2 separate regions of the Homo sapiens genome follow, and region 2 is linked to region 1. Evidence: fine-mapped expression QTL. Tissue or cell type: tibial artery. Region 1 holds a variant in brackets; the other region holds the start of a gene. All regions are shown on one strand. Distances are from middle to middle.

Region 1 (2,906 bases):
AGCAAGGGTGCTTTGGTTCACTGCTGTATTTCCAAAGTCTAGAGCAGTACCTGGCCAGGGTATGAGTTCCATAAATATTTCTTGAATGAATGAATCAAATAGTTGAGTATTAGCACTATTCTGAGAATTTTGTATGTATTATCTCATTGAATTCTTACAGTAACCTTATGTGATGGTACTTTTATGACTCCCATTTTACAGATGAGAAAACTGAGTCTTAAGAGGTTAGGCGACTTGCCCAAAAGGACCTGAGCCACCACACAAGTATTCCACTAGAGCAGCAAGTTAGAATAAACACAGACTTTATTATTATCCAGATTTATGTTCAAGTTGCAGCTCTGTCAATTACTGGTTGAATTAAAACCTCTCTAAACTTTAATATCCTTACTTATGAAATAATTATTCTACCTCCCAGGTTATTGGAAGAATTAGATGAGATCATGGGTGCATTATTTTCATGTATATTTTCCTGATTGCTGGAAAAGTTGAAATTTTTTCATTTTGTGGTTGTTTGTTTGTTTGTTTGTTTTTCGAGGCAAGGTCTCACTCTGTCAGTCAGGCTGGTGTGCAATAGTGTGATCTTGGCTCACTGCAACCTCTGCTTCCCGGGCTCAAGTGATCCTCCCACCTCAGCCCCCCAAGTAGCTGGCACCACCGGCGCATGCCACCACACTCGGCTAATTTTTGTTACCCGGCTCATTTTTATGTTTTTGGTAGAGATGGGGTTTTGCCTTGATGGCCACGTTGGTCTCGAACTCCTGGGTGCAAGTGATCCATCCGCCTTGGCCTCCCAAAGTGTTGGGATTACAGGCGTGAGCCACCATGTCTGGCCTTTTTCATGTATTTACCGGCCATTCTGGTTTCCTCTTCTGTGAATTTCCTGTTCATAACCTTTTCTCAGTTTTTTTTCTTATCAAATTGTAGGAGTTCTTCGAATGTTAGAGATACATGTTGTCTTATATGTTATAAATAGCTTTCCTCATACCATCATTTGTTGTTTGATGATGTTTTTTGGAACCTTCTTTTATTCATCTAGTTAGCGCTCCAGGTTTGGTGGTTGATCAAATACTTGAGAATAGGGATTTATTCATTCAGCTAGTATTTGTTGAGGGCTGGAACTCTGTGGGATGTCCATTCAGTCAGGACACCTCTAAATCCTGACTTCCAGTTTACGTCACTGATGATGGCTCTCATCCTTGGTTCTACCAGATTCTTGAAAGAGAATGTGTTTTCTCAGAGCCAAGTAGACCCAAACATTTCCCAGACTTTGGCCACATAATCAGAAATTTCAAAAGAGTTCTGGAATTTGTGGGCTTAGCTCCAAGTTACCAGGCATCCGTTGT[C/T]TTCCCTGTGGGCAGAATTCGCTTTTAGCTTACTCCACCCTCCTCAGCTACGCAGCATGATTGGGGCAGACGATGAATACTTCAGATATCCCCTGTGGGGTTAACTCCAGAGGCAGCCTCAGAAACTAGACACATAATTCATATGGTCAAAACCTGGCAGGCTCTTCTGAAATCGTGTGACTTCCTATCAGGCCACCAGCTCTGCAGATCCTCAAAGGTCTGGCTGTCAGAACAATAGGGAATGAGAGCAGCGCCCAGATGCTGCCTGCTGGAGCTGCAGGTCCTGTTTGAGTCTGAACAATAAAAGTCCTGGAATGAATTACCAAGGCTCCTGATTGCACCCTGCAGGTTCAGGTTTAGTTTGTGGAGATGTCTCACATAAGAACTGTCTTGTAAGCCGCTTGGGGGGTTCAACAAAATTGGTCAACAAAATTTAATACCATACAAGCCCTTTTCTTGATCAAGCAATTTAGTAAGTCTCTGTCATAAGTCTCTATGACCTGCCATCCAATATGTCAAAATAAACAAAATTTTCATGTTGATGGTCACAAGTGCAGTCCCTAGAGTGGGGATCTGGTGACCACTTCCACCACTAACTAGCACTGGATCGTAGACAAGATCGTTAGTCTCTCTGTGTCTCAGCTCACTCATCTGCAAGATGTGGCTACTAATAGTACCTAAGATAGAGCTATTGGGAGGATTAAGTTAGGTAATGCATGTAAATCCTTAGAATAATGCCCAGCACAGTTGTTGTTCAATACATATTGCAAAGTTCCTAGTATAAACTCCCTGTTGCAGCCTTCTAATTTGACTTCAATAGATTGTTGGTACCATTTGCCTCTTTCTTTGCAGGTATCCTACCTAGGCCTAGAGAACTAAGCTTTTGCTGTTCATTATATGAAGCTTCTTAAATGTCATACAGGCTAGTTGCATCCTACTAATTCTTCACAGACTAGATAAAAATACTTTTGCTGAAGTCTTAATCGGCCTGTCCTGAAGTCAACCAGGCTGTATGTTAGTGCCTTGACTCAGTGCAGCTTTCAAGAGAGGCAGAAAGAATACCCACAGAGAAGGCACATGTGGGCGGTGGCAGTGTAGGACCAGGAAAGAAGCTAGGTCTCTATATTCCCTCGCATTTTGAATCTGTGTTAAATTCAATCATATTAGTATGAAGCAATCCTCTTACCTATCTCCTTAATCCAGCCTCTGACTGCCAGCTCACAAAAGAGGGAGAAGAGGCACTACATTTAAAGTAGTGATTATCTCTAACTAGAATTTTAAGTCCCTACATGTTTTGGCTGTAGAACCAGCCAAAGTTTTGTTCCAATTCCCTACAAAATTTCACAATAGTCAGGAGTTAGAATTGGTCCCTATGTTATGAAACAGCTAGTTTTTATACTTTAAACTTAAAATGAAGCTTTAGTTGTTTATTATTACTGTGGATATTTTCCAAGAGACAGAATAACATCTGTGGAAGATTCTACACAGGCCTTGATGCCAGACATTGTAATTATTTCCCTGCTCAAAGGCAATAGTCAGTGCCTCAAGGAACTCCCTGGCTAT
Region 2 (2,906 bases), 31 kb before region 1:
AAATCCAATTATAATTAATAAAAATAGCTAAATTCTAGCTAACAGAGATATATTTTCAGAATACATTTTCTAAAAAGTCCAGTTATAGGCTATGTCTGAGAGACAGGTGAAAAACATAATGGAATATTATCATATAAATGAATTGACACAAATATATCTCGAAAACATAATGGAGAATGAAAAAAGATGCAAAATGATTATTCAGTATGGTGTCATTTTTGTAAAGTTTAAAAACAAAATTAGGTATTCCATATAGCATTGCTGGATCTCTACATCATATGTAATAAAAGTATAAAAACACAAACTGGAATGATATGTACCAACTTGAGCACGGTGACTATCTGTGGGGCGGAAGAAGAAATGAGAGTGGGGCCGTCGTTATGACTAATTTTGTATGTCTTTAATAAATCCCAAGTACATGCAGCAAAATGTATTGATGTCTGTTTAATCTTGATAGTGGGGGGCGTGGGTAGTATTAATATTATTTTCCGTACTCTTCCGTAGGCCTCTAATATTTCCCTCTTTACAGAACACTGACACACGCTCAGGGCTCCCCGGGACATCTTTGTGCACATCAACATTTATGCTGAGAGTAGCTTCTGGACTCCAAAGAGGAAACTCCCCGGGCACTGTGGCCCACGCCTGTTATCCCAGCACTTTGGGAGGCTGAGGTGGGCAGATCGCTTGAGCCCAGGCGTTCGAGACCAGCCTGGGCAAAATAGCGAGACCCACCCCCGCCCCCCATTGCTACAAAAACATTTACAAACTAGCCGGGCGTGGTGACCCCCGCCTGTGGTCCCAGCTGGTCGGGAGGCTGAGGTGGGAGGATCTTTTGAGCCCGGGAGGTCAAGGCCGCGGTGAGTCGAGATCGCACCACTACACTCCAGACCGGGCGACAGAGAAAGACATCCATTCACTCCCCCAAAAGAAGGGGAAATTCGCTGAGGCTGAGCGCTGGTTTCCCAAGGTGGGGCTGGCACCTGCTGAAGCTGCCACAGGAGTGGAGAGGCCGTAGGGAGACTTGGAAAGAACCTGGAAAGGGGGCCGGGGCTATGGAGCCAAGGCTGCAGCAGGGCTGGATGGTGTTTGTAGTTTGTGCAGAATAGGAGGCAGTTTTTAAAGCCGAGATACAGCTCTGGTTGACTGGAGCGGGGAGGGGTGGGTGTGAGAGGTCAGGAAACCAGCGGCTGGAGGCCGGGGGCCTGGAGCGGCAGGGCTGGCGGGCAGACGTTAGGCCCCAGGCAAAATGGGCGCACCCCCTGCGGGGGCCCGAGGTGACCTGCTCGAGGTCCGGTCGCCCAGGTTCCACCTGGAGAAGAAAATCTTCGTAATTTGGCTGGGGGAGGGGGGATGCGGGCACAGGCTGTGTTCTCCACGTCGCGTAGACGCAGAGGCCATCCCTGGGTCGGAGAGTCTCCGTGGAGTGGCACCCCAGCGTTCCCCGTACGCCGGGGCCACTTTGTCGGGCTGACGGGGGTCCCTCCAGGTGGCCGCCGGCGGCGGGTCCCGAGCCAGACCGGGAAGCGGGGAGCAGCCCTCAGCCCGCGAGCGTGGGGCCGGGGCAGACTGGAGGCCGGGCGGGCCCCGCCGAGGGTGGGGCGGGGCCGGGCGCACGGGGGCGGACCTCGGCGCGCTCCCGGCCGCTCGCTGGCTCCGGGGCCGCGGCGGCTCCTCTGCCGGGTCGCGCCGGACGACTGGCTTCGGGCGGCGGCCCCGGCGGCCTGTGGACGGACGGGTGGGCCGAGGTACAGGCCCCACGGCCGCCGTCTCCCGCTTCTGCCCGCGCAGAGTCCGCGCCATGGCCGCCTCGCCGGGCTCGGGCAGCGCCAACCCGCGGAAGTTCAGTGAGAAGATCGCGCTGCACACGCAGAGACAGGCCGAGGAGACGCGGGCCTTCGAGCAGCTCATGACCGACCTCACCCTGTCGCGGGTGAGGGCCCGGGCCGGCGCGGGCGGGGGCGGCCACGGCCGCGGGCGGGACCCGCGCGGCGGGTGAGAGGTTGCGGGGCCAAGGCGATGGCGGGGCCGGGCGGGGGCCGCGCCCGGGAACCGGCGGCTGGGAGGGGGACCGGAGCGGCCGCGGCCTCGGCGTTTCCCCGCCTGGCGACACCCGCTAGCCGTTCGCGATCCCGGGCTGAGGTGGGAGGGTCGCCCGGCCCCGTGTGCGGGAAGATGGGCAGGGGTGAAGCCCGTGGAGGCGGGCGGCCGTGCGAGGGCGGCCTGAGGGGGAGGAGGACGAGGAGCCCCGAGAGGAAATCGCAAACAGCTCGGAGGCCGGCCGGGTGGCGCGGCGCGGCTTCTGGTCGCTCCGAACATCCCCCACCATCGAGCCCTGCTGTTCTGCCGGCGTGGAAGGCCGCGGGCACCCCAGGGTCCCACGCGCTCGTGGGGGGAGCTCTGTGCACAAGTCCATCCAGGGCCCGGCCCTGGGGTGGCTCGGGTTGTTGGAACCACGACGGGATTCCGTGTCGAGTGTGAGGCTCTGCTCCTTTTACTCCTTGGAGGTGCTTTATCGGGTCCAGTTTACTTTGTTCGGCCCGGGATATTTAGTGAGAACTGACAAGCGTCGCTGGTGACTGGAGAGGGACCTGGAGGAATGAGTAAGGCGCGAGCCGGGACAAACACCTGGAGAGGTTAGGTAACCGCTGAGTGAGGCAGTGGAGGATGGAGAGCCAACCGGAGTGTCCGCGCAGGGTTGCAGAGAAGGGGGGTCAGCAGGAGTGGGGCTGGCCTTGAGGATCCTGAATGCTGACCTTGGAGGACCATCGGGAGGATGGGGGAGGATCTGCAGATTCTGGGGGACTGAGGCGGGGGAGACAGTTTGAAGGAGAGCTGAGAGCAGAGTTGCAAACCAGCTGAGTTGCAGACACATTATTTTTTGGCCAGCGCAGTGTTTGGGAAAAATT

Direction of the effects. Positions count from the first base shown, and alleles are read on the strand shown. Sizes are in standard deviations (SD) of each study's normalised expression.
With allele C in place of T in region 1, the expression in tibial artery of the gene that starts at base 1,650 in region 2 is lower (moderate effect, 0.66 SD a copy in GTEx).

The links.
Region 2: it holds the start of CRTC3, and the variant in region 1 is fine-mapped to the expression of CRTC3 in tibial artery (GTEx, PIP 0.98). The same link has a PIP of 0.9 or more in aorta, breast and tibial nerve.

The regions. Positions count from the first base shown.
Region 1 is chr15:90,559,111-90,562,016 of GRCh38, forward strand. The region is part of intron 2 of CRTC3 (CREB regulated transcription coactivator 3); the gene reads left to right. Among named protein-coding and RNA genes, the nearest start is that of CRTC3, 31 kb to the left of the region's middle. The variant C/T (reference allele first, on the strand shown) is at 1,344.
Region 2 is chr15:90,528,274-90,531,179 of GRCh38, forward strand. It overlaps CRTC3 (CREB regulated transcription coactivator 3), which reads left to right and starts at 1,650. Exons shown (of 15, transcript NM_022769.5): 1 at 1,650-1,930. The coding sequence starts at 1,799. RefSeq lists silencers at 1,104-1,153, 1,254-2,003, 2,024-2,203 and an enhancer at 2,594-2,753.